2 separate regions of the Homo sapiens genome follow, and region 2 is linked to region 1. The links come from fine-mapping of genetic effects on gene expression. A gene starts in region 1. The other region holds a variant in brackets. All regions are shown on one strand. Distances are from middle to middle. Region 1 holds the start of SLC35B3 (solute carrier family 35 member B3). Region 2 overlaps LOC100506207 (a long non-coding RNA gene).

What was found.
Region 2: its variant is fine-mapped to the expression of SLC35B3 in stomach (GTEx, PIP 0.97).

Annotation. Positions count from the first base shown.
Region 1 is chr6:8,429,354-8,442,351 of GRCh38, forward strand. It overlaps SLC35B3 (solute carrier family 35 member B3), which reads right to left and starts at 6,192. Exons shown (of 10, transcript NM_001370479.2): 1 at 5,990-6,192; 2 at 511-804. The coding sequence starts at 711. LOC100506207 (a long non-coding RNA gene) reads left to right here and starts at 6,270. Exons shown (of 5, transcript NR_038980.1): 1 at 6,270-6,825; 2 at 8,587-8,678. RefSeq lists enhancers at 3,200-3,369, 5,820-5,959, 5,932-6,473, 5,970-6,029, 6,230-6,399 and 2 more.
Region 2 is chr6:8,753,872-8,766,869 of GRCh38, forward strand. The region is part of intron 3 of LOC100506207 (a long non-coding RNA gene); the gene reads left to right. Among named protein-coding and RNA genes, the nearest start is that of HULC, 110 kb to the left of the region's middle. RefSeq lists an enhancer at 8,157-8,326 and a cis regulatory region at 8,242. The variant A/C (reference allele first, on the strand shown) is at 7,107.

The DNA.
Region 1 (12,998 bases):
AGATTCTGGCAAAGTTAGAAGACAAAACCAATAAGAATGAGAATATAAGAGGTGTTTAAAAAAGAAATAATTCAAATATTATAGGATTAAAGAGATACCTTTAGAAAACCATAAAATATCCTGATACATTTTTGCAAAAATGATCTTTTATTATTGAGCTCCAAGAATCAAGTAAACTGCACTATCATTCAATAATATTCCAAGATACCAATCAATACGTGAATCATTGCTTTCTCTTGGAAGCACACATTTTGTTAAATATTTAAAACTTAATTTTCATAATGAAAATTTTTCAAGATAGTCTCTACATATGCCTCCTCCCCACTTAAATTATTTAACTCTTGAATTTTGATCTGTTAAGAAGCTCTTTTCTACTCTATACTAAAAAATTCAAATTTATGAATCAGCCAGTATCCCCTAAGTGACTATCTTGGGCAAAACTAGTAAATGCCCATACTGACCGCAATTATTATAAATAATTAACATATTACAAACATATAACTTTTTTACCTGTAAATACCCATAAATTAGGTAAAATACAAAAACTCCAGCAACACATATGAAAAACTGAGTAAGTTTGTTAAACTTGCTGAGATTCATGCCAAGTACCACAACGTCGTCAACTGACTTGATGTGTGGTGACATTGTTTGGGTTTTGGATGGCACAGTGATAGAAATATATTTCCTGGAATTGTTGAACTTGAGATCCATTGTTATTTTGCTGCATTCAATGCTTTCAGAGTTATTTTTGTTGGTTTCCTGGACTGTTATGTTCTGTATGTCTTTTGCTTGCTGTGTCAAGTCCTAGAGAAGGAAATAAGCAATTAAAACATTTACATGATAAAGTTTAATCCTCCAAATAATATTCCAAATCATACTTTAAAGTTATACAAATGTCTGCTTCTCTCTGGATATTAGTATATTAATTCCTGTATTCTAGGTTCCAAATCACCAAAAACAATATGCCTACAATCTTTAAACAATTTGTCTACAGCTGATAAAGATTAGTACATCATTAAACTGAATATAAACCATACTTATTTCCACAGCAACAAAAGCTAGTTATTTCATCAAAGAACTAAACATGTCTTTGTGTCTATATATAGTTGATGCATAACATTCTCAACATTAAAGTCAATCTTCACTTGTAGAGGAGTAAAAAATAAGTAATTCTCCTTTAAATACTAAGACAATTCTAAGATATATTTGCTAATGACATTTAAAAAATAAACTAAAAAAATGAAGGCCAGGTGTGGTGGCTCATGCCTGTAATCCCAACATTTTGGGAGGCTGAAGCAGAGAGGTTGCTTGAGACCAGGAGTTCAAGACCAGCCTGGGCAACATAGCAAGACCCTCTCTCTACCAAATAAAATAAAATAAAATAAAATAAAAAAATTAGCTGGACATGGTGGTGCATGCCTGTAGTCCTAGCTACTTGGGAGGCTGAGGCAGGATGATCACTTGAGTCCAGGAGTTTGAGGCTGCAGTAATCTATGATTGCACCCCTGCACTCCAGCCTGGGCGACAGAGCCAGACCCTGTCTCTAGAAAATAAATGAAAAAAACAAAACAAAGAAACCCCAAACCTAAGGTCCTTAAAAAGCTAGATTTATCAGAGACTACAGAAAGCACAATATGCTTCAGCAGTAGCATCTCTTAGGTTAAAAAATGTTTTCTTCCTCTGGAACAAATCATTTTAATTTACATTCTTCTGGGATGTAAAAGGCTGGAGAAAACATGTCATTTTTTGTCAGTCTAAAAAAAATTATGAAGCCATCAATTTCTCTTTGGATTTATATAAACTGAAAAAATGAACTCCATGTAAAGACTGAGGAAAGACTGAAGAATTATGACAAAGTATAGAATAAACCTATGTAAAAGAAAAAGTTATTTTCTTAGAAACGACTCATCTGTTTTTAATTCCAGTGGGAACAAAAATTTAAACTCTGCGGCACGAAGAGAAATAAGAATAATTTTGACAGTGAGTTTTCCTTTGGTAATGTTTTTTTAAACTGTTACAAGATGGCTTAAAATGGCCAAAATTAGAGTCGCCTCTTCATGATCACTTCTAGTTTGCTAATTTACAGAGGTTAACCAGGTCATCCTTAGGAATTAAAGGAGGGGTCAAGGATCTGAATACCACTTGTAACTAAAAATATGCAGCCACCACAACATTTTATAGGGCACCTGCCTTATTTCTAAATAGAAAAGTTGTTTCATGAAGTTTACTGTGTTCCTCTTGTTTATTCTTCACTTTCCTTTGTTCTTGCTTCCCACATTATGTTTCAATCACTGTCATTTGTAAGACTTTTTATGTAATCTTGCAGGGTATCTTTGAGATGTGACTTTCTTTTAAAACCATGCTTTAAATTATCTCTCCTAAATATTTGGTCAAACCTGTGCTTGAATGTAGAAGAGACGAAAACCTTAACAATTTACTCTTTTCTATGTGTGAGCATGGATATAGTGCACCATTCAAATAAACCCGGCCTTACATAGGTTTCTAAGTTTGCTCTCCCTCCACTCTCAATAAAGCCCTAAACCACCCATGTTTCATTCCTGAAATACACCAGGGACTTTAAAACACCGCTGCCTTCTGTTCATGATGTCCTTTCAGCCTGAGGTCTTCTTTCTCAAGGTCAGGTTTGGAAGTTCAGCTTTAATATCCCCTCCTTTGTGACACCATCACTAATCCCCCCAGTTATTAGAAAAGAGAACTTGAAAGGCAAGATTCAAATCTTATTTGTCTCTGTGTCCTTGGTACCTGGCATATACTCTGACCTGATATTCAGATGAACCAAATAAACTGATCCTTCCTCTTGATACCCTCAAACTTCAGCTTGCAATCACTCACCTTCTGCTTGGATACGATTTTTGAAATGGATGGTGGTACTGGCAAACTTTATGAGCAAAACTGAAAATCTTATAGAAAAAGAGTGGGGAAAATTTACAAATAATGCTTACATATTTACACATACATACAGAATAAATAAAACTTCTAGAAAATATCTTTCTTTCCTGCTTTTATTGGCATCAAAACATTTCTCCAGAAGGTCACGCTTTCCCAAAGTCACCTTCTTCTGAGATGTTTGTAATTTAGTAAACTGCCAAGCATATTGTAATGACTCAATACAATTATAGGTAATAGTATAAGAAAGCAGTATAGCATAATGCTTTCCCCATGCTTTGGAATTTTGACAGATATGAGTTCAAGATCTGGCTTTACTACTTATTAGCTGAGGAGCCTTGGGCAAATCGTTTAACTTTTCTGAGCTTTAGGTTCTGCACCTTCAAAAGTGGGAGGAGTTAAAAATGTGCCTATCACAGGATTTTGGTTAGGACTATATGAAATAAATGTAAAATTGCCTGGCATATGACAGTCCATAAGTGTGTTAGCTGTCATCCTTCAACTTTTTAGAAATATTGCTAGGGTGATATGGTGTGCTCAAGCTGACTCACCCCTTTGATGTGCAGCTGGAAATACAGACCTGAATTTCCAACGCTGCCTTCTCTCCTGAGATCCAGAGCTCTACGTCTAAATGCTTCTTTGATACCTCTACTCATAAGCTCTGCTGGCACTTCATATTTAAAATGGCCAAAGCTGATTATTTTCCCCTCAAAACAAATCTACTGTTTGTTCCTATATTCCCAATCTCACTTAACAGTACCTAGTATGAAACACAAGCTAAAAATCTGGGAGTCATCTTAAGAATCTTTCCTTTTCCTCACATTCTATATTTTGCCAAGATTCCTGTTAACTCTACCTCTATAACTATATCTAATATCTGTTTCGGACCCTACTCCATCAGGCAGCCATTTTCTCTTGCCTAGATTACGAGACTGTTTATAATCAATTCTTCCCTTTCTGACCCATCTGTCACATGGCTCAACGTGAAGTCTGATCATGCTGCATCCATGAATAAGGCCTCGAAGTTAAAAACGAGTTGATGTCCTGGACTCAATCATATTATACATATTTTTCAAATTCCTAAATGATAATGGTATAGCTTTTTCGTTTTTATACTTGTTTCTCCTAAAAGCCTATGAAATCCTTAAGGCAAGAGATATCTTCCTATGATGTTCTGGCACATAACAAAAATGTAAGATTAAATGAAGGACTCTACCACAGTTTAGCAAGCACCATTTATTTAATCAACGTTATTCAGCTCCTTTCCAACACTTTACCACTTCTAATACACTTCTTGGCAACTTTATGTGCTGCAGATCTAGGCCATATGTGCAGAATGAAATCTCTCTAGCACTGTCTTTTCTACATGTATGCCAAAATACCGACATTGCTACTGAAACTCCCCACAAAACATTTGAAATGAACATGAAAATAAATTTGTTTCCTCTGCCTGAGGCATCAGTCTCATAAAACTTGCCCACCAAAGCCTTGCATTTAGAATGCTGTTTTATTAATAAGAACATCACTGGTGAGAAAGTGTGACTGATAAAGACCTCTGATACCTAATAACTGTGATCATTGGGGAATGTCTGCCATATCCCTTCCACTTCAAACATTAATGACTGATACTAACCATCATCTAAAAAAAAAAATGGGCCAAACTCCTTGTGATGCAAGGAGCAAAAATGAAGCATGGAATTAAAATTAGTTTTCAGACTAAATGATCAACATTGTGCTTTGCTTTTGAAGCTCACAGTAATCAGTGAAACTAAAATATATATATATATATTTTAAAAATCACAGGTGTGTATAATTGCCTGAGGCCTCTTCCTAAATTCAACACAGATATTCAACTTCAACTGCTAAAATGGAATAAAAAGGTAGCATTTCCGGCATACAATGTATATTTAAAAATTAAAATTAGTGATAATGTTGAGTTACAATGACCTATTGAAGTCACAATTATTTCAGTTTATTTTTGAGTTTTCCGACCTGAAGGACAAAAGTCCCACACCAAAAAAAGGTAGAATATGAAAAAAAAGTCATTACGGTGTCATTAACCTGAAAAAACGTGATTTTAACTATACTTTGCCACACTCAACGTTACAAATAAAAGAATCTTACCATGCCATTATGCCTTGATTAACTGCGCTCCGGAATCAATCATGGCCTATGGTGTACGATTATAAAACAGAAAAAACAAAGTTCCATCTCATTTCTTTGTACACACATCATTACACAAAGGTGGAGAAACCCTGTGCTAATGTTTGAAGACTATTCTTTTTTTTTTCCAAGAGAAAAAGTTAACACTAGGACTTTATATATTAAGTAATTAAGTAAAAATAACGCTGTCTAAATTATTTTGAAATGCTGCCTCTCTTCCAAGTTCCAAACTATCTCAATTCACTTAGAAAAACGTTTAATCAAAAAACAATTCTAGGCTTCTGATATCCTAATGTAGAAAAAATGCAGATACTCAACACTTAAGATTTTGTTAGCGCACCAAATCATTCCATCTTTTACTTTCAATATTCCTTAAATAATAAAAAGACGGGAGAGATAATTCAGTTGCAAAGACTGGAGGAAACTTGCAGAACTTCTAGTGGAAGTTTATGCCATAAACTTAATAGCCCAGCCAGAACAATCACATTCTACTGCAAGCCAAATGGAGAAAAGAGTACCTTGGAGTGCCCCTATTTAATAAACACGGAACGAGGAAACAGTTAACTGTAAATACAGTCTAGAGGTATCCAGGTGACTGACAGTTCTCCAGAGACCCCGAGAACAGCGTAAAAGACCCCTTGAGGTCACCTCACCCCTGCGAGTCCACGGATTGGGACCTGAGGGAGTTCTCGCCAGCCCGAGGGCGAAAAACGGGCGAGGAGGAACAGATGCTCCTCCCTGGAAACCGCCCGGCCGGTTTCCGCTCTTTCAAAAAAGGGAATCACCCGTTTCTTCCATCCCGACCTCATCCATTCCTCGAACGCTCCTTCTGGATGAGGAAGATGGGCAGTGTCAAGGTTTTCTGGAGGAGAGGAGATCTGGGTCCCAAACACAGGAAAGGCCCCGAAGGCACGCGTACCCCAAGGCCGGTATGTCACCCGGAAGGGTGACGGCAGCCTGCGTGGCGTCTGAGCTAGACGGAGCATCTCCCCCTCCCCTGGTCCGTCGCCATCACCTCCTCTTCCTCCTCCTCCTCGCCCACTCCTGCACTTTCCACCGCGGCGGTCGCCTCCCCGGAAAGCACTCTCAACTCCGGCGCCCGCAGGCCACTTCCGCCTATGTGTCCCTGCGCGCGTGCGCAGACGCGTGGCCCCGCCTCCCGACAGGCCTGTGTGGCCGGTGGCGGGCGGGCCGTTACCTCCCGCGCATGCTCTATGGGGTAGAGACGCTAGGCCGGCACTGCCTAGGTGGGCCGGGCGGTGCGAGGGTCGCCTTTCAGCCTTTACCTCTACCCACTGAAATGGAGTAGGTCGGTGAGCGCCGATCTGCTGGAGAATCTCATTATCCCATCGGCGCTCTGCCTGCTCCTGGCCTCCAAGCCTCTGAAGCCCCTCGGGTTTCAGCTGCCGGCTACCCTCGAGCCCGTGGTGCCCACGAGAGAGGCGACTTTACGTCAGCGGCCCTGGGCTGAGATTTGAGAACGCGACCAAGTGGAGAATGTTGGAGCCAGATTTTAAAATCCTTGTCTTCCTTCTGCGTGCTACTTGATCTAAATGAGATACGGCAAAGTCACAGAACCTGTTTTTATGTTTTTGCCTGATTCATACGGGCTTCTCCGGTGAAGATGGGCCTGAAGTAACGCTTGGGTTGCTTCTGACGTTATAACTCATCCTGTAGCTGCAGCAACCGTGGTCCTTGCAACCTCATAAAAATGTTGCCAGCATTGTTTCGATAGTGCTGCTTAATTCTTGGAAGGTAAATCTCAAAGCTTGAGGACCAGCCATCAAAACTTTTGTAAAAGGTTTTCCCCGCGTTTAGGGCCTCATCCATCACCACTGAGATGTAATAACGTAAAAACCAAGACGGTTTGGGGATGAGCTGTTTTCAGAGAATAATTAAGGAAAATATTACTGTAACGAAGATGGACAATTTTTGAAAGCATGCCTTGAATACCAGAAAGGGATGAATTGGATTAATATGTATGTTAGAATCCAGTCAGTTATGGACAACTTTTAAAATTTTACAGGCACTCTTCAGAAAGGGTAGCATTTGTGTCTTGTATTGGGATCGAGGGTTTGTAAGAAAGCAAGGCACCTACTTTGGTGGTGAGAAAAAAAGGTCTGGGTAGACATTTTCGTTTAATACTTGCCAACGTTGTTAGGCTGGTGTTAGCAACACTTAGGAATGTTGGAATTAAGGCTTAGAGAACTTAAATTTCCTAAAGAGATAGTAAATGACAAAACCTTTCAGTGATGCCATATCGTCACTGTATAATGTGAATTTAGTACTACTGTTAGCCATTTATATGGTGGTTATTTATCAAGTATTTATTAAATGGGCATATGTATAGCTCATATCGTAAACTATGCGTATGAGCTCCCTGTCCTGAAGAAATTAGGGGTTTCCATGAGAAAGTAAATGGCAGTATAAAACAACTTAAGGTACAAGAGGTGTTACAAGGTACCATCTGCTCATGCCTGGACAATTGCAGTAGCCGTGAGCATAGCTTTCTGCATTCCCTTTATTTCTCTACATAGTTGCATTCAGCAGCTGGAGTGATCCCATTAGAACCTGAATATGCCACTCCTCTGTGCAGAACCTTTTAGCGGTTTACCATTTTACTCAGATTAAAGTTCAAAATTCTTACCCTGACTTTTAAGACTGAACTTATTCTTGATGGATCACATCCAAGCTACACTTCAGAGCTTTTCTAATTGCCCCCAAGCACAGCAAGCATCAGTGCTTTGTAGCTGTTGTTCCTTCTGCATGGAACACTGCCCTCTCAGATGTCCACAGAGCTTGCTTCCTCATTTTTTTCCAGTCACTGCTCAAATGTCACCTGGCTCTTCTCTGACTACCATGTCAGTGAAATATTTTTACATGTCAAATGTGAAATGTAGGAGAGACTATCTGGAGTAGTACTTATTATAGAGTAGGTGTTTAATAAATATCGACTCTCTTACAATACTTCCCATTTACTCCTGTGATAACCACGTGGTAAACAAAATTAAAGACTTGCAGCTATGAATTGTTTTTTATTGACTGATTGACTGATTGAGGCAGAGGCTCACTCTGTCGCTCAGGCTGGAGTGCAGTGGCACATCTCAGCTCACTGCAACCTCTGCCTCCTGGGTTCAAGCCATTCTCCTGTCTCAGCCTCCCGAGTAGCTGGGATTATAGGCGCCTGTCACCATGCCCGGCTAATTTTTGTATTTTTAGTAGAGATGGGGTTTCACCTTATTGACCAGGCTGGTCTCGAACTCCTGACCCCAAGTGATCCACCCACCTCAGCCTCCCAAAGTGCTAGGATTATAAGCGTGAGCCACTGCGCCTGGTCCTATGAATTGGTTTTAAATTTTTAAGAAATTAATAATTCTGTAGTATCAGAAACCTTTGGTGTCTTGATTCACATCTTCTGAGCATCACCTCTCATTTCTGACTTGGTTGTGGGGGGCAGTTTCATGCAATCTTACACATTCTTCTCCCTGACAGCTTCTCCTCTCCCACATTTACCAGGCCTCTTTGCTTTCTTCCCTGAGGTTCTTCGGACTTCACACATTCCAGCAGTAGCTCTCTCAGCTCCTGTCCTGCACAGCTTTGAAGTGCTGGTAAGTCAACACATCTGGGGCCCTTCAACCAAGGGGTGACAGTCACTGATGGATAAATGCTCTTGCTTCTTACACTTGAGCAAGATAGTTTTGTAGGCCATTCTGTGTGTTTTTCAAAAAGTCCCAGTGAAATTGGGTTCTGGTTTCTCACAACAGCAACTTCAATAACACATTCTTGTATTATGTCTATATTCTCCCTTCCATTCTCTCATTGTTTCTCACTAGGATCACATCCCAAATTACCTGTCCCCACATAAGTAGTTGTCTCAGGTTTTGAGGGAAACCAAGCTAAGAAATTTGATGTAAGAAGAAAGTCTAGAATGCAGCTCCTCAGAACTCTGGAAGTGGGTTACTTTGCAGTCAGATGACAACAAGGACTTTCTTAGTGATATTAAGGGGAGGACATGTGCATGGCCCAACAATTAAGGCTCTTTCTTACTAAAGCCGATATGACTACTGCCTCTTTGGATGTCCAGCCCATCAGCAGCAAAGATTGATGGTAAATTCCATAAGGAGAGCAATTACACAAAAGTCCTTCCTTCCTGGAGAGAGCCGTGGTTTGTACTTACGGAACTGACACTTCCCTTGATATGACTGGTCTTGTTCATGGTGCCTCTGCCAGTACCATTATATAACAGAGTTACAAACACATGATTGATTGACTTCCTTCCTTCCTTCCTTCCTTCCTTTCTTTCTTTCTTTTTTCTTTCTTTCTTTCTTTCTTTCTTTCTTTCTTTCTTTCTTTCTTTCTTTCCTTCTTTTTTTCTTTCTTTTTCTTTCTTCCTTCCTTCCTTTTTCTTTTTCTTTCTTTCTCTTTCTCTTCCTTCCTTCCTTTTTCTTTTTCTTTCTTTCTCTTCCTTCCTTTTTCTTTCTTTCTTTCTCTCTTTCCTTTCTCTCTCTCTTTTCCTTCTTTCTTTTCTTTTTTCTTCCTTCCTTTCTTTTTTCTTTCTTTCCCTTCCTTCCCTCCATCTCCTCCCTCCCTCCCTCCCTTCCTTCCTTCCTCTTTCTTTCTCTCTTTCCCTCCCTCCCTCCCTCCCTTCCTTCCTTCCTTTCTTCCTTCTTTGACACAGAGTCTCACTCTGTTGCCCAGGCTGGAATGCAGTGGCACAACCTCTGCCTCCCAGGTTCAAGCCATTCTCCTGCCTCAGCCTCCCCAGTAGCTGGGATTACAGGTGCCTGCCACTACACCTGGCTAATTTTTTTGTATTTTTGGTAGAGACACGGTTTCACCATGTTGGCCAGGCTGGTTGTGAACTCCTGACCTCAAGTGATCTGCCCACCTCAGCCTCCTAAAGTGGTGCAATTACAAGCGTGAGCCACCACACCCAGCCCAAACACATGATTTTCTGATGTATTGCCTCCAACTAAAGGACACACTTTATGGTAAAAGAGGTGTGACAATGACACACGACCATGGAATTCCACTGGTCCTACCATATATTGTATCAACTGGAGGAAATTGGCCTGATAGAACACTGACATTGTTTTGTGAACATCAGCAAGTATCCTTTTCAGGAACAGTGCTCAGATAGGGTTGAGATGCCGTCACTCCTGACACACACACACACACACACACACACACACACACACACACACACCTGGCCCTTGGGAAGTTTGGTGGCATTAACACCCCCAGGCAATGATCCACCAATGGGGAATGGGCACCTATGGATAAATGCCTTCCATTTCCTAGGAGCAATTTTTGGGAGGTGTTTTTATGTATTTTAGGATGTCCTAGATAATCAAGTCATGTGACTTGGGGGAGCGAGAAAGAGAAACCAGCAGTGGAGACTTAGAAGAAGCAGCTGTTGACATAGGATGGGTCCAGGAATGTACAGTCTTCTAAAAGCCAGGTGAAGACAATGTTTAAAGGAGGAAGGAGTGATCAACAATGTCAGTTCGTGTCAATTGGTGTTACTTAGTCATGTGTCTGTGAAGAATCATCTTGCATAGTTAAGTCTCAGGTTCTAGTGTCAGATTAAATTTAAATCCTTGCACCACCCCTTGCTCTTTGAGTGTCTTTGTGCAAATTGCTTAAATTCTCTAAGTCTCAATCTCCCCATCTGTGAAATGGGAATGACAGTAGTACCTATGTGGTAAATTGTAGTGATGAGTAAGTGAAAGATGTTTAAAGATGGTTAAATGGTTAGCACAACACCTATTACCTGACAAACACTTAGTAAAAGTTAGCTATTAATATTCTTATTAATATAGCCTACTATCATTAGAATAATCCATTTATATATAGTCATCAGTTGTCACTTTTCTAGCTCTTCCATAAGGAATAGGTTATATAGCATTTCCAAACTAGGAAGTTCATTGATAGATATATGGTTCCAGATGCACTGAGCAGAAAAACTAGTTAATTTGATTTTCATTAAATATCCATTTAATAAATACTTATTGAGCACTTACTCTGCATGCTACTGGGTATTGTGGATATGTGGATGACAAGACAGACATGGATCCCTGCCCTCACAAAGCTCACAGCCTTGTGTGGTGGAGATAATTAATTACACAAGTAATTATAGTGTGATTTGTGTTGATAAGGGTATTAACTACAGGATGCAATGGGAGCTATAGGCTATGCTAATGAGGCTGTGGTTATAGATTCAGTTCCCCTGTAGGTTGCTTGACTTCCAGGGCTATCAGTTTTTCTCTGCTGTCTCCTAAATGGATAGAGGTTCACAGAACTGGGCCACCTGGACACCAGCCATGACTCCTCTTCTTTCCCAGTACTGATAATTGGCATGGGGCAAAATTCTTCATAAAGAGGTAGCATGTGTAATGAGATGGAGAAATATTTTGCTCGTTTAACACCTGGCTTTTGAATCCCTTTTTGGTCAAAGTTTCTGTGTTTTGTTTTCTTTTTGTAAGAAGTAATTCGATTAGCCTCTTAGAAGATTATTCTTAAACTGCCTTCCATGGAGGGTTAGTCTTATTAACATGAAGTTCTTTTTATTTCCAGAACAGTGCTGTCCAATAGGAATATAATATAAGCCATGGAAGCTACTTTAAATTTTCTGCTAGTTACATTAAAAAGGTGAAATGAGGCCGGGTGTGGTGGCTCATGCCTCTAATCCCAGCACTTTGGGAGGCCAAGGCAGGCGAATCACTTGAGGTCAGGAGTTCAAGACCAGCCTGGCCAACATGGTGAAACCCCATCTCTACTAAAAATAAAAAAAAATTAACAGGGCGTGGTGGCGGGCACCTGTAATCCCAGCTGCTCAGGAGGCTGAGGCAGGAGAATGGCTTGAACCAGCGAGGCAGAGGTTCCAGTGAGCTGAGATCATGCCACTGCAGTCCAGCCTGGGCAACAGAGTGAGTCTCTGTCTCAAAAAAAAAAAAAAAAAAGGTGATATTAATTTTAATAATATATTTATTTAACTCAATATAACCAAAATATTATCATTTCAACATGCAATCAATATAAAAAGTTGTTAATGAAATACTTTAACATCTGTTTTTTTATACAAAATCTTGGAAATCCAGTGTGTATTTCACACTTCCAGCATATTTTGGTTTGGACCAGCCACATTTCAAGTGCTCAGAGTAGCACATATGACTACTATCTACCACTCAGGACAATGGAATTTTAGAGCACTTTAATTCTTGTTCACCACTTGGAAGGTGATGAAGTTTAAAGTGCTAGAGAAAATCCAGGCTGGGCGCAGTGGCTCACATTGCCTGTAATCCCAGTACTTTGGAAGGTCAAGGCAGGCAGATCTCTTGATTCCAGGAGTTCAAGACCAGTCTGGGTAACATGGCAAAACCCTGCCTCTAGAAAACAAACAAACAAACAAAACAAAAATAAAATCAGCTGAGTGTGGTGATGCATGCCCATAGTCCCAGCTACTCAGGAGGCTGAGGTGGGAGGATCCCTTGAGCTTGGGAGGCGGAGGTTGCAGTGATCCCAGATCACACCACTGCACTCCAGCCTGGGTGACAGAGTGAGACCTGTCTCAAAAAAAAAAAAAAGAAAAAAGAAGGAAAGAAAGAAAGAACAAACAAATGAAGGAGGGAGAGAATAAAGGGAATCACCAGTGTGGTATGGCTGAGAAGGGAGCTTTTGGGAGACTATAGGTTCTGTATCTAACTGGAGTATTTAAGTTGTTTTATGGAGGCTGTGATTTATAATTCCACCACTTCATATTCTTAAAAAGCTTCAGTAAATCTGCATTGTTCATTAATGCCCTGCATAGGTGCATTATTTCAGATGAATTTAAAGAAGGCTAAATTCTGTGGCCAGGTGGGTGTGGAGTAAAAATAAAGATGGCTCCCAGGGATGTAGGAGCAAGTGGGTGGGAACTGCTAAAGCTT
Region 2 (12,998 bases), 320 kb after region 1:
TTTAAGTTATCTATACACTATAACTGTTAAAACATGGAACTTAGTATGTACACAATAAGTAATACTGTTCTTATTATTCTGTAGCCATAGATTTATTATGATAAATTTATAAAAAATAAACCTATAATATAATAAATATATTTTTTGCCCTATTGATGTTTTGTTTATTTGCTTTATATTCTGTCTTAAAGATGAAATAATAGAAGACACTTTGCCTGTGGAATTTCAGTTTTCTCCATTTTCTTATTCCTCTATTTACAACCTTTCAATTTTTTTCCCCAAAGAACATAGCTTTTATTTTCATTATGTACTCTTTTGTCTTCCTCAACATTTTGTTGATTCTTTTCTTCCAAAGTTTTGAAATCATTACTGTTACTCCTAGGAAAAACATAAAAAGTCATTAGATACAGAATTTGTGTGATTTGTCTTTTTTATGCCTTAAATCATCAGAGGGAGAATACTCCAGCAGCCCAGGGCATTATGGTTTTATTTCTTGCTAGATTATTTAACTTCTTGTGTCTTTATCATTTTTTTAAGTTACTACAACACTTACTGTTTTTTTATCCATTCATAAAATAAAAGCAACTGAACATCTTATCTCTCTCTCTCTCTCTCTCTCTCTCTCTCTCTCTCTCTCTATATATATATATATATATATATACACATACACACAGTTATATGATACATAAGTTTATATATGCTACATAGTGAAAATGAGGAATGAACATTTATAGGCAGAAATAGAATAAAAGAGGAAAGAATGGAAGTCAAAAAGAGATGTGCTAAAGGTCACCAAAGTAATATGGAGAATTCATTCAGATCAAAGAAAGTTGGGAGTTATTTGACAGTGTTTAATATGAAGCAGCTGCATTGGAGAGTCTTCTGTAATAATTTATTCTTCTTTTGACTTGCAGAGTACTGAGCTGTCTCCGAAGAATTCAGATTATTGAATGTAGGCACCCTTTTCTGATTTCCTTCATCAATTCAATTCAGGAGATGTGATGCAATGTGATGTGTCAATGTATGTATGATCGAAGTGTCAGTCTCTATAAGTACTCCGCTCCATGATCCTGGGGTGAAGTGCTACAAAACACATTTTTGGTGGAGCAGAAATAGTGCTGCCTTTCCTGTGCTTCCCACGGCTGTTGTAGATAGAAAGCAATGAATTCAGAATTCTCAAGTCGGCCAGGCCATCTTCTCAGTGAGCTTTGCCTCAGGCACCCTAGATATTACCACATGAGAGCTATATTTCATCTGTTCTTAAATTTTTGCAGCTAAAGGACCACATTTGAGGGTCGAAATCCCTGCCACAAAACCAACCTTACCACCTTCTACTACTCATAAGAAAAATCCATCAGAATTTACTGGAATTTATTGCAAGAATGACCTTCCATTTCATGAGTTGACAATGATGTGAAGCCTGGTTTTATCAACTATCCAAGTAAAGTAGTAACTTCAAGTCTTTAATAGTACACAAGAATCATTTACAGGTCAAGTATGGAACCTCTAATTATGAAAAACTGATTCTCAGAGCATATTTTACCAGATATTGTGAGAAACAGAGAAAAAGCAGTTAACAATGAAAGTAATTACTGGCCTTCAAATTCATTATTAACAGCAAGTCAAATTGAAAAGGTACTGGTTCTGTTCTCTGTCATTGACGTGAGAGAATATGGTAGAAGTAAGCGGAGAAAGAGACTTGGAGGCCATCTGCTCAGGCCCTTTCACTTTTCTTCAGAAGCAAAGTTGTTAATTGCTCAAGGCCTTCAAGATCCCCACATTCCGTCTCTTTCCGTAGAACATACATGTGCCAGTATCCAGATTTCTTCACATATTCTTCTTTCCATGTCTCCCATTTCAAAGAAGTGTTCCTTCTCAGGTGTAAAGAGTGAGGCTAATTGCCCTGTCTTTTCCCGCTAACTCAGCTCTTCCTGAAACAAGTACCTTTCCTCATTTCTGTAATTTTTCTTCTGCTTGCCATAAAAGGAAATCAAGTTGCATACCATTCAAATCTCCCATCAGCTTTGTGATCTTTGGAAATGTTTTTTTCACATTTTCTAATAGAAAATTTCATATACAGTATGTACGAAATGGAGTGAAATGATAAGGTCCCATTTATACGACACTCAACTTCAATAGTTTCTAACTCATAGTAATCTTGTTTCATCTATACTTGCACTCGCTGCCATTCTGTCAGATAATTTTAAAACAAATATCAGATATTATATCATTCTCTAGTATTTATCACTAACATTTAAGAGCTATTTTATTAAACATAAGAGTAATGTCAGGGTCTGGGGTGTTGGCTCACGTCTGTAATCTCAGCATTTTGGGAAGTCGAGGCAGGCAGATCACTTGAGGTTAGGAGTTCGAGACCAGCCTGGCTAATACAGTGAAACCCTGTCTCTACTAAGAATCCAAAAATTAGCCAGGCATGGTGGCGTATGCCTGTGGTCCCAGCTACTTGGAGGCTGACATGGGAGGATGGTTTAAGCCCAGGAGGTGGAGGTTGCAGTGAGCTGAGATCGCACCACTGCACTCCAGCATGAGTGACAGAACTAGACTCTGTCTAAAATTTTTTTAAAAAGTAATGTCGTTATCACATGTAAAAATTAACAATGATGCTTTAATACCATCAAATAGCTAGTCAGTGTTTATATCTTCTCAATTGTCTCAGATAATTTGTTAAAAGTGTTGAATCAAGATTCAAATAAGACCATAGTTTGCCATCAGTTGATGTATCTCTTAAGTCTCCTCTCTCCTTCTGCAATATTTGTTGAAAAATCTGTGTCGAGACGGGCGGATCACGAGGTCAGGAGATCGAGACCATCCTGGCTAATACGGTGAAACCCCGTCTCTACTAAAAATACAAAAAAATTAGCCGGGCGTGGTGGTGGGCGCCTGTAGTCCCAGCTACTCGGGAGGCTGAGGCAGGAGAGTGGCGTGAACACGGGTGGCGGAGCTTGCAATGAGCCGAGATGGCGCCACTGCACTCCAGCCTGGGCAACGGAGCGAGACTCCATCTCAAAAAAAAAAAAGAAAAAGAAAAAGAAAAAGAAAAATCTGTGTCATTTGTTGTGTGGGTTCCCTACCGTCTGGATTTTGCTGGTTGATTTCTGTGAACTCTGTACTTCCTGCACTTTTATAGTTGAATCTGGAGGCTGGATTATATTTGCTGTTTTTAGCAAGAACTATTTTTGGACAAGGTCTCATATTTCAGTTAGTAGGTGAATAATGTCTGGTTGTCTCTCTTGTGATGTTGGAGTCAGTTGCCCAGATCCAGTGGCAACAACTGTGGGTAGAGCCAGTGGGAGTGGCCTGTTCTGGGTGCAGGCAATAAGGGGTGCTTTGCCCACAGTAATCTGAATCCTAAAGAGAATTTTAAAACAATATTGAAACTAACTAAAAGCTGGTATATTTTTATTATTACTAAGGTTGCTAATTCTAAATAATGTCTCTGAAAAAGAAAATCTTCTGTTGGACTAAGTTCTAAATAATTGCTGTGGTTACTGCTGAGTTTTAATAATATGTATCTTGGCTTCAATTTCACACATTTTTATTATGTATTCTTTAATAAACCTGCTATTCTACATAGAAGTAAATTCAGAGAAGTCCAGTTACACAGTTGGCTTCACACACGAGAATTGGGCTAAATGTTTTAATTTTGAGACTAAGTTCGCAAAACTTTGGATTCATTAGAGCTTGTGCTGGGTGTAGTCTGTGTCTCCAATCCCTCTGGTGCTACATCGTCCTGTGCTTAATTCTAAATCAATAATCATATCAGTGTCACTGTAAAGAGGAATACACAGAACACAAGTTACTTTAATTCCATCAATTCTGTCATTTTGTTAAACCGCTTGAAGTTATTTGTTCTTAAATGTTAAAAGACTGAAACAAAATATGAATCGCAAGGTGTAATAGCTTTGTTTGGTAAATGCAAATTTTAGTTCATATGTAAAGTCTTATTGTATTTAATTTACATGTTTAAAATGGAAATTTATTCTTATATTAATTGGAATACTAAAAATATGTATGAAGAGGAAGGCAGGATAAATGCTTGAGTCTTTCTCTTTATTTAATAGTTTTCAAAATAATTGGTTGGTTCCATATCATCATCCTCCAGAGATATCCAACTAGTTCTTTTTGTATTGTTAAGAACACATTTGTTTAAATATATCTGATGCCTTTGGCAACACCTTAAGCCAATTGCAGTCAGATTTAGTTATTATCCTATCAATGCCTCAAAAGTCTCTTTGGCTAATATAGGAGTCTGTTCAAGTTAGCTCCTGAGTTTTCTTGACACGCCCTTAAAAGTCTTTGGTAGCTTTCTTTGTAATGTACAAAATATTTCAGGCTCATTTTGCACATTTCTTGCTCTAGGCTTGGTATCAGTCATTTCTCAGAAGAAAACTGGTTTCTTTTAGTGCAAAATAGTGTTGGGCACTAATGGTGCTTGTTGCTACCTAATAGTTTCTAGGCATTTTCAGTAGATTGTGCTAGGTAAACAATTCTAAGGTAAAATGCATAATAAGTTTATACTGATCTTTCCTAATCAAATTCAGGATTCTGAATTTTTACCTGCCCTCATTCAATATTATATCTCCAAGTCACAGTGAAAATTCCAGTTCTCAATAATGCCAACATACTTAATTGACGTATTACATAATCCATGCATAACAGTCTCAGAATAGCAATACCAATACTACCGCTCACACTATGCTTAGCAAAAACAGATTTTTTTCGTGGTTATATTTGCCCACAGGATCTCTCGCACTAGGGATGTGTAGTCATATACTATGTCTTAAAGTCACTTGAAAAAATCCCCCTTTTTCTATTGGTGTCAATTTGACACATATTTAAATTAACTTATTTTATTTGGCTTTGGATATTACAAATTACTTTTTAACATTTAATTTTGGTTTATGATTATGTGAACTATTTACCTATTTACGTGGTTCCAAAGTAAATTCTACAGAGCAAGGTATATTCAGAGAGGTCTAGCTTCTACCCCTGTATCTTTCTATGCCTGTTTCCACTACCTTTCACCTTTAGATGTCCTTTTAAAAAAATTCTGGTTTGTCTTTTCATTTTCAATGTAAGAAAATATTGGTTCATGCTTTCATTTCAACACATAAAAATATAAACAATAGCATATGAAACACAGTTTTCTGTCCCTTGGACATGTTTCTTAAAGTCTCTCATTGTATCAGGTCATTGATACCTACTTTGAGACCTTCAGTCTGTACTAAATGAAACTGTGTATGACATGCTTGCTACCGTAGGCACACATGGGATTGTTCATTTTTATTTCTCTCTGAAATCGATCAATCCAGATACTCCCTACATCTAAAAGACCTCCTGCGCTCAAACAGCTCTGCTTCACACTTCCAAACTTTGTGAAAGTTTGCCAACTGAATTTTCAGCCTCAGTCTTTCTCACTGATGCTGCATCTTACAATTGGTGAGAAACAATCACATTTTCCTAAAACCTTAGTTAAGAACATAAAAAGATATTAAATTCATCTTAGAGTGTTGTTCTAGTGTATTTGGGTTTGCCTGAACATTTTTATGCACAAAATGGGGTAAAACATATTTGAACGTCAGATCCCATTTTTAACGTAAGGTATTCATAGGAACAGAGATCCCAACTTGAGCTTCCGAAACTTCTTAAGACTTTGGACTATTGAAACATCTGAAGACTTCAAACTTTTAAGTGAAAACTTGAAATGGGAGATTTGAGGCATTCTCATTATTGGTGGATCATAGAACTACCAAATGGATATAAGGATATATTCACTTATGTAGTTTGTTCCACACATTTTCCAAAATCATGAGGTGGGTGAAAGTATAGATAATTTTAAAAAAATGTCCTGCTGGGCATGTCTAGGAACTACTGTCTCTTAATAAGTCTCTCCTCCTCTTTGGCAGAGATAACAACAATTTGCTCTTCTCAACTCCTTTTGCCAGCACAGGGGAACAAATGACATGATATTTACTCTGCATCTGATAGCCTATCACTTTACAAAACAATGTTTGAGCCTGGGTGCAGTGGCTCACACCTGTAATCCCAGCACTCTGGGAGGCTGAGGTGAGTGGATCACCTGAGGTCAGGAGTTTGAGATCAGCCTGGCCAACATGGCAAAACCCCATCTCTACTAAAAATACAAAAATTAGCCAGGCATGGTGGTGCACGCCTGTAGTCTCAGCTACTAGGGAGGCTGAGGCACGAGAATTGGTTGAACCCGGGAGGCAGAGGTTGCAGAGAGCCCAGATGGCACCACTGCACTCCAGCCTGGGTGACACAGCAAGACTCTGTCTCAACAAACAAACAAACAAACAAAAAACAATGTTTGAGTACAACTCTAGGCCAAAGACCACCTATTCTTGGTAATGACAACTGTCTAATAATTGTTCAGCTGGTACCAACAATGCTGAGAGGGCATGGTGTGATGACATGCACTTCATGCCCAAGTAACTAAATTTGTCAACATATTCGATGCTTACAGGACACAGGACTGGGCTGTGGCCCTTGGCGAGCCTCCCAAGCTATTCAGTGATGTTAGACAACCCACTTACCTTCTCTGAAATTTACTTTTCTTATATGTAAAATGCAGCTATTGTACAGGTAAGTCAGATTTCTTCCAGCCCTAAAATTCTGCGACTCTTGGTCTAGCATGAGCCTAACTAACATCAGTGGATGATTATATAAGTGTAAACTGTGTGTAAACTGTAATAGAATCCTCTTTTTTCTCACAAGATCACTTTGATTTCAGATTTATAAGTATTTTTCTATTTGGAAAGGGACTTTAGAGGTGGGGTGTACAGATACTCATATTTTTTAGCCTAATGTGTTGGAGAGAAGGAACTATTAAACAAACTATTAAGAAGGAGGTAAAAGTGAGTCGAACAAATTAGATTTTTTAGATTGAATTATGAATTTGAAAACTCTGGTGCTCTTAAATATTCAGATCCATGAAGTTACTCTTTTACATGGGGACAATGAAATTTTCTGAAATTACATGGAAAATATTGTACAGAAAGGCAAAAACCGGAAGCATTTATTGAGCAGTTACGTGCTGCATACTTTCAAATGAATTCACTCATTTA[A/C]ACCTTACAGAAACTCTGTGTTAAGTATTACCATTCTTGTTTCTAATGTCAAACTCAGTTATGTTAGTTACTTCTCCCAATATCACACAGCTTCTAAGGAATTAGGCAGTGACTGGACTTCAAAGGGTTGTTAGAAGTTAATATGTTAAAGGAGCTTAGAAGAGTATTCAGTACCTACTGTGCACTGTGACTTGACCTATTCTCTTCCTCCTCTTCCTCCTCCTCCCTCTCCTCCCCTTCCTGTTTCTCTTCTTCTTCCTCTTCCTCTTCTTCTTGTTCTTCTTCTTCTTCTTCCCCAGAAGTTCATTAAATTTACTTGGTGAGAGCACAGTGATCTCGGGTTTGGGGGCTGGGTTGCCTGCATTTAAATACACACACTGCTGTCTAGGTGAAGGGCAGAGTGCAAACTGCTTTAACTATGCAATCTGTAAAAAACTTGAACAACACGTGGCATACGCTGCATATACAGTAAATATAAACTCTTACTATTAACATAGTTCTTTTACGTATTGGTTTTACGGAAATAATTCTTTAAAAGCTACCATTCATGGTGCTATTATAAATAGGCTAGATAGTACAATAGATGCTAGTTAGGGTAGAAGATATTGATAACACTCATTTTATTGGTCGTATTATTTGGTATAACAGAGTACAAAATGATTTCTCCTGTTGTCTTCATCCTTAGAGACTTGAAGTCAGTTTAAGTCAGTCTTAAGTCACTGATTTTTAAAAGTAATTCTTCTGACATCTAGTCTCGATGATGATTTTTAAAAGGTCAATTCTAAATATGTTCTATTTTTTTCTCAGCAAGTGCTTATTTTTCTACTTTGAAGTCAGGAGATAATATATAGTTGAAATGTGATACCCTTAATCTCTTAATTTTTAGACATCTACCTGCCCATTTATTCTATTGTTGCCTCACCAAGCACTCAGAATTGCTTTACACAGCAGGAACAAAATCAACCTTGGAATCACACATCTAGTATTGAAGTGACATTCTGCCACTTGTTACCTGTGTGATCTTGGAAAATTTGCTTAATTCTGCTGAGCCTCAACATTCTCTAGTGAAAAATTAGATGGACAATGCCTTCCTTCAGTTTGGCTGACTAATCCACAAATGTAGGCAGGGCAATAAGTCTGTTTTCTTCCCAGAATATGGTGCAAGCATGGCCACGCACAAAGTGTGTCTGGATTGGTGTTTAGCTGCATGTGTCTTGGCCCATGCTTTTGTCCTGTCTAAAGTAAGAATATCTTAGACTATAGAGCTGGAAATGGCCTTAGACCTCATCCTGTCCAAGTTTCTTATTTAACAGATGAGAAAATTTTGGTCCAGACAGGGTAAAAGAGACATGCCTCAAAATCGAATCAGTTAAACTATAATGCGTCATATTGTTTGTGCCTTTATTTTTCACTTTATCCTTTCCTTCCTATTTCACAATAAAAATGAGTACCCTCACTTATCTATCTTTAGAAAATTACCTTTCTCTGACATTCAATATTCAAGAAAGGTATATATTTTTTGTAATCCACTTTTTTCTTCTTACAGCGTATCTTGGGATATTGAAAATACCCCATTTTTGCAAATAAATCTATAAATTTAAAGAAGTGTCAATCTAAATCTCCAGAATATACTTTATGGAACTTTGTAAGTCAATCATAAAGATGAGGTGAGGGAAAGAAACCATAGTAATGGCCAAGAAAAATTTTAAAGGAGGAGTGAAGGAGAACTTTTTCTACAGACATCAAAATGTAATATAAAACTATAGTAAATCAAATTATGTGGTTTTTGGCACTGGCATAGACTAATAGATCAATAGAATAGACTAGATTCCAGGAAAAAAACTACAACTGTAATAAAAATAGCATTTTAAGTCAGTGGGAAGTCATTTAATAAATGATATTGGGATAATTGGATATACACATGGATAAGAAAGAATGAAACTAAAATTGGTCTTATGCATATGTAATGAATATTGCAATCTCATGTGCTTTTAAAATACCCTGTGGGGTATGCGTGTGTGTATGTGTGTGTGTGTGTGTGTGTGTGTGTGTATAAAATGTCAGGGAAAGAAATCATTAGAGTGAAGGAAAGAGGCTAAGATAATTTTTAATTTTTTGACTCTTTGTAAGTCTGTGTTTTTAATATTTTTAATTTTCCTATCACTTTTGTGATTATAAAATAAAGATTTCAAGTACAAAAATCACTTCATTACATTGTACATTTTCTAAAAAATTTCAGCAAGCTGTGTATGTGTGTGTATTTGTTGTAAACCAAATCGTAATTTGAATTAAAGTGGGGGAACTACACTTTATTGGAATTAGAGGGCTTCCTTTCAAAAACGTGAGCATTCCCTAGTCTCCCCAGTTCTTAGGTTTAGAATTTGGTGCATCTGGTTTTCTTTAATTTTGCTTATTTCTACTAACCCTTGAAATCTGGGTACCATGATGGAGATTAACCATGTCATGCTGACTTCTGAAAGATCAGGTTTATCCTAGACCCCATTACCTTCCTCTGCTTAAGCTTTTGTTGAGGAAATTTTTCCGCAGCTGAAATGAGGTTTGAAGGCTTGAAGAACAGTGATTTCCATGTGACCTAGTGTAGCTTGGAAGAATGAAGTTCTGATTTGGAAATAGAATCATTTCCTATTGTGGTAGGTTAGTAAACTTGGAATAACAAGTATATGTTAAATAAATATAATTAAACAATAGTAAACATTAAATTTAAAGACTATTTTTAATGCTCCATTTGTATGAACTCACTTAATCCTTACAATAGCTGTGAGGCTGTTTCACTCATGAGGAAACTACAGCACAGAGAGGTTGGTAACTTGCCTGAATTCACAGAGTTAATAAGGATTGGTACCAGGATTGATGTTCAGGTCATCTTGTTCCTAAGTCTATTCCCTAATCACAGCCAATGATGCAATGAATATTCTTGTGTATGTTTTCTTACATTCACATGTAGAAGGTTTTTCCAAGTGTGGCATTCTTGGCTGTAGGTTATACCCATCTTCAGCTTTACTAGCTATTGACAATTTCTTCTCTTTCTCCATATCCTAGCACTTTTAAGTAACTTTTAATATTGGTCAGTCTGATGAGTGTGAAGAGTTAGATCATTGTGTTTTAAATATTCATTTCATTTATAACAAGAGAGTTTGAAATGTTTGCACTGGGTTTTGTCCATAGATTTGTAAGATTTTTTTTATTCTGAATACTAAATCGTATTTTCTATATAAACATCCTTGGGCACTTTGTTCTGTTTCTCTGCTCTGTTTCCCTAGCCCTGCACTAATATACATTGTCATAGTTACATGAGTTTTTCCTCTTTTACCTCCCCTTCCTCCTGGTCCTTCTAAAACATTGTGTATCTGATAGGATGAATCCCTTACCCTTTTTGCCTTCAAAATAGAATTGATCATTTGTAGCCTTTTAGCTCTTTCGTATAAACATTAAGATAAGGTTGTCAAGTTCTAGGAAAAAATTCTGTTGCATTGAATATATGGATTAACTTAGGAAGTTAGTTATGCTGATTCTATCCAGCCTGCTCTTTCTGAAAATGGTGTAGTAAAATCAGTTGCTGAAGCTTTAATGGTTAATGAATCTTACTGGCTTTCCTGTGACTGGTTGCGAAAAGGGATTAACAGTTTCTAAAGTAACTACTTATGAGCATGACCTCTATCATATGTCAAGTGCTATGGCTAAAGTCTTACAAAATTTATTGTTGTTTGTGTTGTTTTAATAAATATTGAGGTATTTCTAGATTGTGTTTTGTATTAATGTGATTGTTGCTGTTTCACTGAAGTAATATAGATGTTAGAGATACATGGAGTCACATTTGTACACTGATAACCACCATTTTTTACCCAAGACTGAGTATTTGGGATTCTTTAATGCCTTATTTGGCTCTAATTCATAAAGCTTAGGGTGATTGCGAGTCCAGGCCCTGCTGAGCTGGGGCCAAGTGTTGAAATGAATGTTCCAAGCACTTGATGGTGTTGAATGATTCTAACTTAGAGATTGGAATGGAATTTTAGTGTATCTATTTTAAATTTCTTCAGGTTTAATATACAATCTAAAATTATGACAATTCAATCAGATATAGTCTCAGATAAACAAGTTTAAAAAACCAGACAAAAATCTCTGGAGGAGTTTATATAACTTGGCTCTGCTGCCTTCAAAATCCTTGTAAATAAGAAACCAAAATTCTGGGGTTGATACTTTTTCTTTAGAGTTATGAACATCCCATTTTTGGAGAAACAAAGGTTACCATAGATATTTCAATTGTTAGTATTATACATATCACCACTTTTTCTTTAGTTAATCTTGGGCCACGCTTTCTGAAACAGCCTCTCCCACATGCCAAGTATTGTATTTGACCTTTTCATGTCAATTATCTACTTTGTTCTTCACAGCAATCTTATAGACTGCATATTGATTCCAAATTTATAGATGGAAAAATATGGTTGAGAGGAGTTTCCTAAAGTATAATAGCTAGAAACAACAAAGTTGGGTTTCAAACATGGTTCTATCAAATTCAGGTCTGTATTATTTTCTGTCATCCCATTCATTCTCCCAGTGCCTGGGAACTGGATAAGAAAAAATAAAAATGACAAATCTATACTTTATTTTTGAATAGGTGCTAACTCCTAAAATTCAGAAGAGCTCTTTCTTAAGTGTACCAGTGATAGCCCAACTCAATATTGACTATTCTGCTGATTTTGTTAATTTGCTCAGAAGCCTAAATTACCTGCTAATAAAAGAAATAATATTGCACAACTGGACATTCCTAATGTTAGTTACATCTGGAGGTGATCTCATTAAACATTACAGATTTGGCTGTGTGTCTTGGGGGCTTTCTGAAATCCTAACTTTTTGCATCCTTGCCCTACAGGCACAGTTCATAAGCTCTAAATACATAGCCAGATTAGCCATAGCCATGACAAACAGGAACCTTTCCATTTAGGTTTTTCTCTATATTTTATTTGAACTTTGGAAACAGAAGCAAGTAGATTTGAAAATAAGATGTTTTAGGGGTAGAATTGTCCTAGTTTCTGTATTAAATGTTAAAATAACTAAAGACTGTAGACCCAAGAGATTTAAAGATGTTGTTTAATTTTCTAGTAGTAGAAGAAATGATTAACAGACCAACACTCTTTCAAAAGTTGATATAACACTTACATGAAAGAACCAGAGAAAATATTGGAAAGGATGGTGCCAGTTCAAGGGGCTTCAAGAACAAACTATCTCTCCATGTAGAAACTTTTCAGTGGTTGACTGTAAGGAAGGACACCAAAGAAACAGAAGAAGACAAATCCATGCTGACACGTTCTGCTGCTCCTGCATCCAGCTACAGGGGCTAAGGGCTTAGGGTGACTTTAATGCAAATTATGGTCCAATTTTGCAATTCCATTTTCACTTGAAAAATATAAACTGAGAAAGTGTCAAGATTCTTGTCCTAAGAAGTCTTCTTTAGAGTGAAAAAGGAACCGTACTGGGTATTGGTGGTACTAGTGCTAATCCAGACCATCTCTGGCTCACTATGTGACATAGGCAAGCCTATGGCTTGGTTCTTCTGTGGTCCCTGAGTTAAGGACTACTAGTGAAACTGCCTTACAGTTCAAAAAATGTCTCTATACGGGATCTCTAAGGTTTTTTTTTCCAACTCCAAACCTTTGTGAATCTCAGCCTGACTGGGTGCTAGGATAGGATTAACAAGAAATTAATAACCCTAGCTAGTAGTTTCAAATTGTAAAATCATAAAACATCTCTATGAAATGAACCTTATGCAATAGTACATATCTCACAAAACACTAGAAAGTATAATTGGCTCTCTTTATCCAGAAACAAAGGGCAGACTTAAATAGACTAGAAAGATTTAGACTCATATACCAA